Linked DNA regions of Homo sapiens: region 1 is linked to region 2. Evidence: fine-mapped expression QTL. A gene starts in region 2. The other region holds a variant in brackets. All regions are shown on one strand. Distances are from middle to middle. Region 1 overlaps RAMP1 (receptor activity modifying protein 1). Region 2 holds the start of RAMP1 (receptor activity modifying protein 1).

The links.
Region 1: its variant is fine-mapped to the expression of RAMP1 in whole blood (TOPMed, PIP 0.99).

What each region holds. Positions count from the first base shown.
Region 1 is chr2:237,903,322-237,908,691 of GRCh38, forward strand. The region is part of intron 2 of RAMP1 (receptor activity modifying protein 1); the gene reads left to right. Among named protein-coding and RNA genes, the nearest start is that of RAMP1, 46 kb to the left of the region's middle. The variant A/C (reference allele first, on the strand shown) is at 2,860.
Region 2 is chr2:237,857,424-237,862,793 of GRCh38, forward strand. It overlaps RAMP1 (receptor activity modifying protein 1), which reads left to right and starts at 2,200. Exons shown (of 3, transcript NM_005855.4): 1 at 2,200-2,304. The coding sequence starts at 2,253. RefSeq lists enhancers at 12-800, 801-1,587.

The sequences.
Region 1 (5,370 bases), 46 kb after region 2:
ACTGTTATCTATATTTCACATTATTAATTTAGGATAATTCCCAGTAATGCAATTACGGGGTCAAGAGGCATCCGTGAGTTTGAGATTATTGATACATATTGCCAAATTGTGTTTCAGAAAAATTGTACCAGTTTATCTTCCCTGAGGATTGCTATGAGTGCCTGCCTCAGTATCCTACACCTTCACTAGCATTCAGCATTATTTTCTTTTTTTTTGAGACAGGGTCTTATTCTGTTGCCCAGGCTGGAGTGCAGTGGCAGGAACATAGCTCACTGCAGCCTCAATCTCCCACCTCCCTGGGCTCATGTGATCCTCTGACCTAAGCCTCCCAACTAGCTGGGACTACAGGTGCATCCCAGCACTGGCAAATGTTTGTTGTTGTTGTTTCTTTAAGACAGAGTCTCGCTCTGTCACCCAGGCTGGAGTGCAGTGGTGCGATCTCCGCTCGCTGCAACCTCCACCTCCCAGGTCCACGCCATTCTCCTGCCTTAGCCTCCCGAGTAGCTGGGACTACAGGCACCCGCCACCACGCCCGGCTAATTTTTTGTATTTTTGGTAGAGTTGGGGTTTCACTGTGTTAGCCATTTTGTATTTTTTTGTAGAGACAAGGTCTCACTATGTTTCCCAGGCTGCTCTCAAACTCCTAGGCTCAAGCAATCCTCCGGCCTAGGCCTCCCCCAGCGTTGGGTTTACACGTGTGAGCCACCACGCCCAGCCTAGCATTCTCCTTTTTAAGAGGAGTGCCATCTGGATGTTTGGTCTTTCATTTCACATGCTTAGTAGTCATTTGTATTTCTAGAAGAAATATTGGGCCGGGCTCAGTGGCTCACGCCTGTAATCCCAGCACTTTGGGAGTCTGAGGCGGGCGGATCACGAGGTCGGGAGATCAAGACCATCCTGGCTAACACGGTGAAACCCCGTCTCTACTAAAAATACAAAAAAAAAAAATAGCCAGGGCGTGGTGGCGGGCACCTGTAGTCCCAGCTACTCGGGAGGCTGAGGCAGGAGAATGGCATGAACCCAGGAAGTGGGGCTTGCAGTGAGCTGAGATCATGCCACTGGACTCCATCCTGGGCAACAGAGCAAGACTCTGTCTCAAAAATAGAATAAAAATCAAAATAAATAAATAAATGAAAGTTAGCCAGGTGTGGTGGTGCACGCCTGTAATCCCAGCTATTCTGGAGGGTGAGGCAAGAGGATCACCTGAGCCCGGGAGGCAGAGGTTGCAGTGAGCCAAGATCGTGCCACTGCACTCCAGCCCGAGCAACAGAGCAAAACGCTGTCTAAAATAATAAATAAATTTTAAAAAGCGAATATAAAGCCAAAAGTGCTTTCCCCTCAGATTTTCTGACAATTTAGACACACATTGCCTGGTCACCTTTTGCTTAAGTATAAACTCAAAAAGGACAAGAAATGTATACGTCATGAGCCAGTCAAGTGAGGACCTGTATCTTTATCTTAATAGGAGACTAAGACTTGAACAAGCGAATGAGGTCTCCAGGATCACTCTGGGTAAGAGGTGGAGCTGGGATTTGAACCCAGGTCTATGGGTGACAGGGCCCAGGCTCAGATATTTCATATTAGGGCCAGCCGGGGGTAGCTGGGGGACAACTGCAACCCAGGGTGTCCCCAGAGTAGATGACTCACCTGTGAGCATCAGTGATCACACTTTCTTACCAGCAAGTAACCATGAACAGTGGTGTCGGGCCTTGACTTGGGACCCAGATATGCTGGAAACTCCCACCATAGGATTCAGGAACATTCCAAGCAAAGTTTGCTTCGAGCCCCAGAATAGAAGGTCCTAGCCAAAAAAGGATAATTACTCAGTGACACGAGAACTGAAACTTTAGGGAGTTAAAGCCAGGGTGTATTTTTCATGACTATTTTGGGTCCTTCAGTCCGTTCTGTGTTCTTTTGGGCAGAAGAATGTCTGTACTCTGAGGGGAATTCTTTTATCACATCCTCACTGACGGAGCTCACAACATTTATTGAAAGTTTCAGCTGTCACTTCTGTATAAATAAACAGGATGAAGTGGGCAGCCGACTGCACATTAGAGATATTTTTAGACGTGGGTGGCACTGCAATCCAGAAGGCTGACATATCAAGGAGAGAGTGCCTGATCCCAGAATAGCCCACCCACACACGGCCCTATCTGCCTCAGCGTGGCCTCGGCGTGGGTTCTGTGGTGGCGTGGCTTCCTGCATCCGCTCCTTCCTGTTCTGTTTGGCCAGTGCAGAGATGGCAATAGCTCCTCCTAAAAATGCCACAGCTCCGCTCCTCAGAGGACAGGGGTCAGTGTTCAGGATCATGTGTCACTGGATCTGCAGAACACCAAAAACTAAACTGCCTGCGGGTTTGGTGGGTCTGAGATATGGGAGAGGATCATCATTCAAAGCAGGCTTCATTGGTCAGATGCAGTGGCTCACGCCTGTAATCCCAGCACTTTGGGAAGCCAAGGAGGGTAGATCACCTGAGGTCAGGAGTTCGAGACCAGCCTGGCCAACATAGTGAAACCCCATCTCTACTAAAAATACAAAAATTAGCCAGGCATGGTGGACCATGTCTGTAGTCCCAGCTACTTAGGAGGCTGAGGCAGGAGAATCGCTTGAACCTGGGAAGCGGAGGTTGCAGTGAGCTGAGATTGTACCACTGCACTCCAGCCTGGGCAACAGAGCAAGACTCTGTCTCAAAAAAAAAAAAAAAAAAAAGGCAGCATTCTCACTGTTTAGCCCTGTAGTTGAGAAGGCTGGACTTGGTTTTCAGCAACAATAACACGTCTAACATTTACCATGGACCGGCCACATAACGTGCACTCATTCGTTTTTCCCCCACGATGAGACTCAAACCGTCACGACTTC[A/C]TGTGGCTTTTTCCACTTCTGTTTTCTTCTTGAAACATGAGTCCTTGTTCACCTGGAGAGACCACACACCCCAATGCCTACAGGCACGGCACACTCTCTGCTGCCTCTCCCTCCTCATGCCTCATCTACTAGGCCTCTTGGATGGGCTAAGGGAGGCCCTGCACACTCAGGGCAGTGACCTAGAGGGCAGCCAGGAAGGAAAAACAGTGACCGTACGATAGGGGCGGGGGTAGAGGGGTGCTGGGATGCCGGAGAGGCCCCTACTTTTTCTGTATAGCCTCTTAAAGCCCCCAGGGGTCTCCTCACATTTAATTTATGGCCTCTGATCCATTTACTCACTTTCTAGATTAAATATAAGGAAAAGTACCCTTCTATTGTCTTCATTTTCACTGTTTTTGGAGCCCTTCATCTATTTATGTGGATCTCAAACTCTTTCTTATCACTGAAGAACTTTCTTTGACATTTCTTGTAGCACAGGTCTGCTGGCAATGAATTCTCTCAGCTGCTTTTTTCTCAAAAGGTTCTTATATCAACCTCTTTTTTTTTTTTTTTTTTTTTTTTAAAGACAGTCTTGCTCTGTCACCCAGGCTGGAGTGCAATGGCGTGATCTCAACTCACTGCAACCTCCGCCTCCCAGGTTCAAGTAATTCTCCTGCCTCAGCCTCCCGAGTAGCTGGGATTACAGGCATCTGCCACCATGCCCAGCTAATTTTTGTATTTTTAGTAGAGATGAGGTTTCACCATGTTAGCCAGGCTGGTCTCGAACTCCTGACCTCAAGTGATCCGCCTGCCTTGGCCTCCCAAAGTGCTGGAATCACAGGTGTGAGCCAATGTGCCCAGCCTCAACCTCATTTTCAAAAGGTATTTTTTTCTAGGTATAGAATTCCAGGCTGACAAATGTGTTTCCCCTCCCCGCAACCTCTAATACTTTCAAGATGTTGCCCATTGTCTTCCCACATGACAAGCCTCTGATAAGAAATTAAGAAATCTGCTGTAACTCACTGTTCTTCTGTATGTCTTTTTTCCTCTGACCTCAAGATTTTTTCCTTTTTCTTTGGTGCTCAGCAGTTGGAGTTTGATGTGTCTATTTGGTTGTTTGCTGTTGTAGCTGCTTTGTTTTCTGTCCTGCTTGAGGTTCTCCAAGCTTCTTGGATCTGCGATTTTATGTCTTTCATTATTTTTTTAAAAGCCTGAGCCATTATCTCTTCAAATATTTCTTCTGCTCCATTCCCTCTCCTCTTTCTGGGACTCTCACATTATGAGTTGAGGTTGATGTCATTTATAGGATTGTCATGTTACACAGTTCTTGGATGCTCTGGTTTTCCCTCACTTTTTTTTCTCTTTGTGTTCCAGTTTGGTTAATTTCTACTGACATCTTCAATTTCTCTCTTTCCTCAGTTTTCGTGTCTGCTGATGGGCCCATTGAAGGAATTCTCTCTGATGCCATATCTTTTTATTTCTAGCAACTGTCTTTGACTTTGAGTTTTCACTTCTCTGCTTAAATTCTCCATCTGTTCATGCATATTGTCTGCCATTTCCACTAGACCCGTTGTCATACTAGCCATTCTAACATAACTGTCTGATAGTTACAACATCTAGGTCGTCTCTGAGTCTAACTCCATTCATTGTTTTGCCTCTTGACAATGGGTTGGTTGTTTTTTGTTGCTTCTGAACAAAAAATATATAATTTTTATTGAATACTGAACATTCATGTATAGAACAGAGGTGACTACGGTCAATAGTATTTACATATGGAAATGGGTAATCCTCTTCTGTCAGACCGTTAGTGTGGGATTTGAGTCAATCTTGTTAGGAATTGAGCTGGGTTTGGGATTTGTCATTGTTATGGTTATCTTCAATGTACCATAGGCCTCAAGTACCTCTAGCAATGAGCTGTCATTGCCTTGTGCCCAGGGTTGGGACTAGGGCACTGGAGGAGATTCCTCAGTGTGGTGCCCCACCCTCTGCTTTCAGCTTTCTCTTGCCTGCCTGTGCTGCAGCATGGATCTTACCCCACTTTCTCTCGGCAGTAGACAGCTGCTGCTTGTTATTCTACCAAGGTTATGTTCAAGGCTTGGGGTGGGTTCTCTGTGTACTGGTCCAGCCTCAGTTTAGACAGGCCCTTCCCTGTGCCCTTCACCCCAGCATTCCTACCCCTCTTCCCTGTGGCAAACTCTGTCGGGGTCTTGGGTGTGACTGTCCTGTCCCTTCCCCAGTGAGAAGAGACCTCTGGTGGTGGTGGTGGTGGTGGTGGTGGTGTTTTTGAGACAGAGTCTTGCTCTGTCACCCAGGCTAGAGTGCAGTGGCATGATCTCGGCATGATCTCGGCTCACTGCAACCTCCACCTCCTGGGTTCAAGCGATTCTCTTGCCTCAGACTCCCTCGTAGCTGGGATTACAGGTGCCCGCCACTGTGCCTGGCTAATTTTTGTATTTTTAGTAGAGATAGGGTTTCACCATCTTGGCCAGGCTGGTCTTGAACTCCTGACCTTGTGATCCACCCGCCTCAGCC
Region 2 (5,370 bases):
GAAATACAGATACATCAGACTACAACTTTTGAAGACGGGAAGCCCATAGTAGTTGCTAAGGAATGTCTTACTTAGACCCAAGGTACAGACAGGAAAATCATTAGGAGAGAACATGCCTCTAGGTGTGTGCCTTACTTCAGCATTCTCCAGAGAACTGTGAATTTCTAAAGCATGTGAACTTGAGAAATAGGCTTTGTCTTCTTAGGAAAATGTATCCTTTAGGGGGTGTTGAGAAAACAGCAGTGACAGGGGCCTCTGGCCTTGCCTCCTTGCAGTCAAGCTTCAAAGAGAAAACGTTGGGAAGAAAGACTCCTGCTGAGCCTGATGAAAGAGGAGTCCCAGTTGCCAACCAAAAACATGCAGCCAAAGTCCACAAGCTACAAGTAGAAAGGGTGGCTCAAGCCAGAGTCCCTGGATATGGAGGGCGAGTGATGGCTGCAGAAAGATGCAGGTTCTTCTCCCCCACTATGACTGGCCATCGCCTAGTGCAGGATGTACGGTGGCCCTGTCCCAGGGCTGTGCTGGCAGCCACCCTTCCCCACTAGCTGTGCTGCTCTCACATGGCACGGCCTCTGGCTGCCAGGCCTGTGCTCGGGCCTGCATTTCCCTTGTGCCCTTCTCTCCACCCAGCCCTCAGGACTGCCTGGGCTGCATTTTGTCCAGAATCCTTTGTCTCCTTACTTGCACTGCAGCTGAGGCGAGTGTCCCTTGTTCCGGGTGGCTCCTGTATTGTGGCGCTCATGTTATTGAGAGTCTTAGAGGTCACCCCCTAGATTCACCAATTGAAGGGCAGGGCTTGTCGATCTAACAGTGTCTTGCACATAGGGACACAAATGTCTGTTAAATGAAGAAAGTAGGGATGCCAGGCCACCCAATGGGGTGTATCTCCTAGGGTTCAAGAACAAGGGCTAATCAAGTCAAGAGAATGTGTGCCCTCCCCCACCATCTCACCCCTCACTCTCAGAACACTTGGGGCCCCTGCACAGGTGGTAGGCATGCTGGCCCTGAGTGCCCTCCCAGCCTGTGTTAGAAGAACCAGTGGATGACCTCGCTGTCAGCTGTCTCCCCTTCTCTGAGCTTACTGCAGGTGGCAGCAGCCTCTCAGCCACAGACTGTTCCCTTTCCTAGGAGAAAACGATGGTCACTCAGCAATGCTGTGCGCTTGCAGCTTCCACCACAAAAGAGACAGCTGTGGCCGCAGCACCAGGGTGGTGATTCTTCCCCCTCCAAGGGCAGTGGTGCATTCCTTAGCACAAGTATAAATTTACTGTTGCTAAGAGTTCTCGGAACAGGATAATACAAGAAGGAACCACTGCAAGTGAAATCCAGCCACCAGTAATGCCGAGAGGCCAGGCCTGTGCCTCCCAAAACCTGCTCCTCCGCAGGCTTCCCCGGCCCATCTCCAGAGCGCCCTCCTCTCACCACTTTACATAAACGAATGTACCCAAGATCCCCCATCAGTTTTCCATGCAGCTGCCAGAGTGCCACCAAAGCAAACCTCATCTCAAGACTCTGTGGCCAGGCCCTCACAACCTCCTGCCAGGCTCTCGCTACCTACCCATCAACAGCAAGACTCCCAGGCCATCTCAATCCCCCCAAAGAGCCCTGTTCCTCCAGCCCCACGGCTTCTGTTCACCTGCCGTGCTGTCCCCGCCTCTGCCCACCCACTCATCCTGCAGATCTGGAGCAGCATTCCAGGGCCTGGTAAGTGTGCGCCATTTTGGGTTACTACGGGTCTCGCCAGGCGCGGTGGCGAGTTTTGCCCCCCACGCTCCCCAGCGCCTGCACCTGGGCGGAGAGGTAGATAAGGCTGGGAGATCTTAGCCTTTTGCAAGGCAAACACCAGGCAGGAACGCCCAGAACCTCGGAGGAGGAGGAGGGGAAGATCCCCAGGTGGAGACCAAGGTGCCCCTCACGCTGAGTCGTCTAGGAGACCCTCCCTAGTTTAAAAAGTGTTTATTTGCTCGGAGAACATTTCAGGAGGCCTTCCTGGGACCCCAAGTGTGCCGCCCCCCGGGAGGGGCCTGGAGACGCCCGCGCGGCCCCCCTGCAAAGTTTTACCGGCCCTGGGCGCCCCCGGCCCTGGCACCCACGCGGGGAGCCGCAGTGGGCCGGGCCGCGCGGCCGCCGCCTCCCACCGCTCCCGCGCCCGCTCCCGCCCCCGGCGCGTCTCCTCCGGGCCCGCGCCGCGGCGGGCTCAGTCCTCAGCGGGGCGCGTGGCGAGCGGACTCGACTCGGCACCGCTGTGCACCATGGCCCGGGCCCTGTGCCGCCTCCCGCGGCGCGGCCTCTGGCTGCTCCTGGGTGAGTAGGTCCAGGGGTCCCGGCCGAGCTCCCTTCCCCTGGCCAGCCGGTGTCCTCTAGGGGAGAGGAGGGGAGCGGGTGGGAGCGGGTGGGAGCGGGTGGGGGCGGGCGCCGCGGGCGCACAGATCCGCTGCCCTTGAACGCGGGCCGCCCCGGTTCCAGGCGGGAGGCCCCAGGGCACAGGGGAGGCGGAGGGCGCGGACCGGTGTTGCGCTTCTCGCCGGGGAAGGGACGGCTTTGGGGACGTCGGAGAGCGGGCATTCTGGAAAGCGTGGGGTGAGTCAGCCCTGCACACTGGAGAACTAGTTTTCAGAAGGAAAAACAGGACGCGGGGTTCCCCAGCCCCGCACCTCGTTTCTCAGGCTGTGCGCCGCGGTGACTGCCAGCGCAGGCTCCCTTCCCTAGGCCGTCCCGCGTTGCAAAACCTGCAGACGGGCACCTTGCAGAAGACGCAGTGTTCGGGAATCAGAACCACAGCCGGTTTGTATGGAAATTAGTCAACACTGACAATCTGTCGCCTGCAGCAGTTGCTTGTTTGCAAATCACGTCTTTTGCAGAAATGAGGCCAGCCCTTTTCGGGACACTTCCATCGCTTTTTTTCTTTTTTCTTTTGGTTTGCTTGTTAACTTGGCACTTTTGGCTAATAGAAATTTAAAGAAGGACGGGTCCCTTGGTGAAGTGGTGGAACACGTTTGGCTTTCCACTTGGAGGGAGAAGTGGAGATTAGCGGCAGCCTCATGGCCACAGGAACTGGCCACACACTCGGCAAGAAACGGTGCTGTTCACTTCCCTTGTCTGTAATGTGTTCCTAAAATGCTAACTCAAGCCCCTTCTAAACCGCTTTGGCTATTGCATTATTCCGTGTATTTAGCTACCTTTTAACGGAAACTGTGAATAGGTTACTGGCGTGGGAGAACCCAGTGTCCCTGGGAAGGCCGGAGCAGTTGTTTCTGGTATGTGTGGCCTTTCCCCGGAAACAGTGATGTTGGTCAGAGGCACCTGCCGCACAAGACCTCTTTGGCGCTGGCACTGGGCAAGCAGGGACCACCGGCGCTGTTGTAGCTGGGGGAGTGGTTCGTGGCCCAGCGAGGAGAGGGGCCAGGGCTTCTTGGGAGCCATGGATTTCTGTTCCCTATTTGTAAACCTCTCCAAGGGGTGGCAGATCTGCATAGAATCCTCAGAGGCCGATATAATATAATCTGAAAGCGGATCTTGCCACTTTAGAGTTTTGGCTGAAGTTACGTGGAAAGCAGAATCTCGCAGTAATTTTATTCTCTCCATTTGGCTTGACATGGCCTTCACTGTTTTCATTTACTAAGAAACAAACATTTCTTTGTTAGCAAGGCAGAGAGCTGGGTTGTGGAATATTTTTTACATAAATAACCAAATAAATAAACGTTCTTTACTAGTGTCCAGAGGCTGAACCCTCTAAAGCTTGTGTAAATAAAACACTATGTCACGATCACATATAAAGACCTTCCTTGTTTACCGAGAAAACTATTCATGTTCTGCCGAAAGTCCAAAGTCCTGTAATTTTAACGTTATTTTGAGTGGCCTGGCTAATGTTATCTCTTGGAAGAACAAACAAAACTTTATGAGGTTATCAGTAAATTAATGTCATTGGAGCCCAGCTGTAATTAGTAGAATTACTGAGCACAGGCTGTTTCCTTCCCAAGCTGTAGCACTAGCCAGGTCTCCTTGGTGATGAAGATTTTGCTACCAAGAATGGCAATGTGGAATTTTTTTAAGTACTCTAGTTTACAGGTTTAAGAACTTATCTGTGACAATTTTACAATCAAGCTATTTGTCTTAGGTAGTTATTAAGAATCTCATAATCCGGCCAGGCATGGTGACTCACGCCTGTAATCCCAGCACTTTGGGAGGCTGAGGTGGGTGAATCGCCTGAGGTGAGGAATTCAAGACCAGCCTGGCCAACATGGTGAAACCCCGTCTCTACTAAAAATACAAAAAAAATTAGGCAGGCATGGTGGCAGGCACCTATAATCCCGGCTACTTGGGAGGCTGAGGCAGGAGAATCGCTTGAACTCAGAAGGCAGAGGTTGCAGTGAGCTGAGATCATGCCACTGCACTCCAGCCTGGGTGATAAGAGTGAAACTCCGTCTCAAAAAAAAAAAAAACTTAGGATCCATATATAGTTCTTTTCCCTCTGAGCATCCTGTGTACTCTTCTGTTTACTGGAGACTCTACATGCATTCTGAAAAGTTTGTGTATAGACACCGAAAAGCTGTTCGTTAACCAGGAAAGAAGGATGCGTTAGAAGCCCCTGGTTTTTCGAGTCCATCTTCACTCAGGGAATGCTGGCTGGTGCTGTCACACATGAACTCAGTCACCTGTCCTAGGAAACGCATGCCTTCCTTGGCTGTCACGTGGGAGCCAGGGGTTTTTTTAATGGCTGCAACATTAATTGAAATGTATGACTTTATATAAATACAAGTAGAATTGGAATGACAGGGACATCACAGGAAATGCTATGTGACTGCTTCAGATTGCCATGCGGTTTTAAATCTGGACACAGTTCTCATGCCAAAGTCCAAATCTGAAGGATTCTTATTTGTTAATCAACTCAGTGTGTTTGTTTACCCTCTCTGTGTGTCTAGCTGCAGGAAGAAATTTCTGGATTTTTGTCTTCCTTCCACAGGCGCATGCCTGTCAGCGTGCTTATTACCAGTCCGAGGCCAGGGCTGTTGAGAAACATTTATATCCACAGTGCAAATGGTAGATTCAGCTCCGGGAAATGTTTTAGGTGGAATCTTTAGTTAAGGCTAGTTGGAAAAGTCTGTCCTGATTTTTTTCCCCAGAATGCGCCCATTTCATAGCTTCTAATCAGTTACAACTGGCGTCTGGCTGACTGTGTGATGCAGGTGCCATGTGTAGTGTGAATTCCAGCGGAAATGCTGAGCCCAGAGAGTGAAGCCCCTCGGGCTTGCCTGCCAGTGCCCCTGCCAGTGCCCCCACCCCCAACTCAGGCCTAGAACCCCTCTTTCCTGACGGTCTTTGTGGTATGGTGGGCTGGCCCTCAGTGGTCTCTGAGCCAGGCCTGGCCAT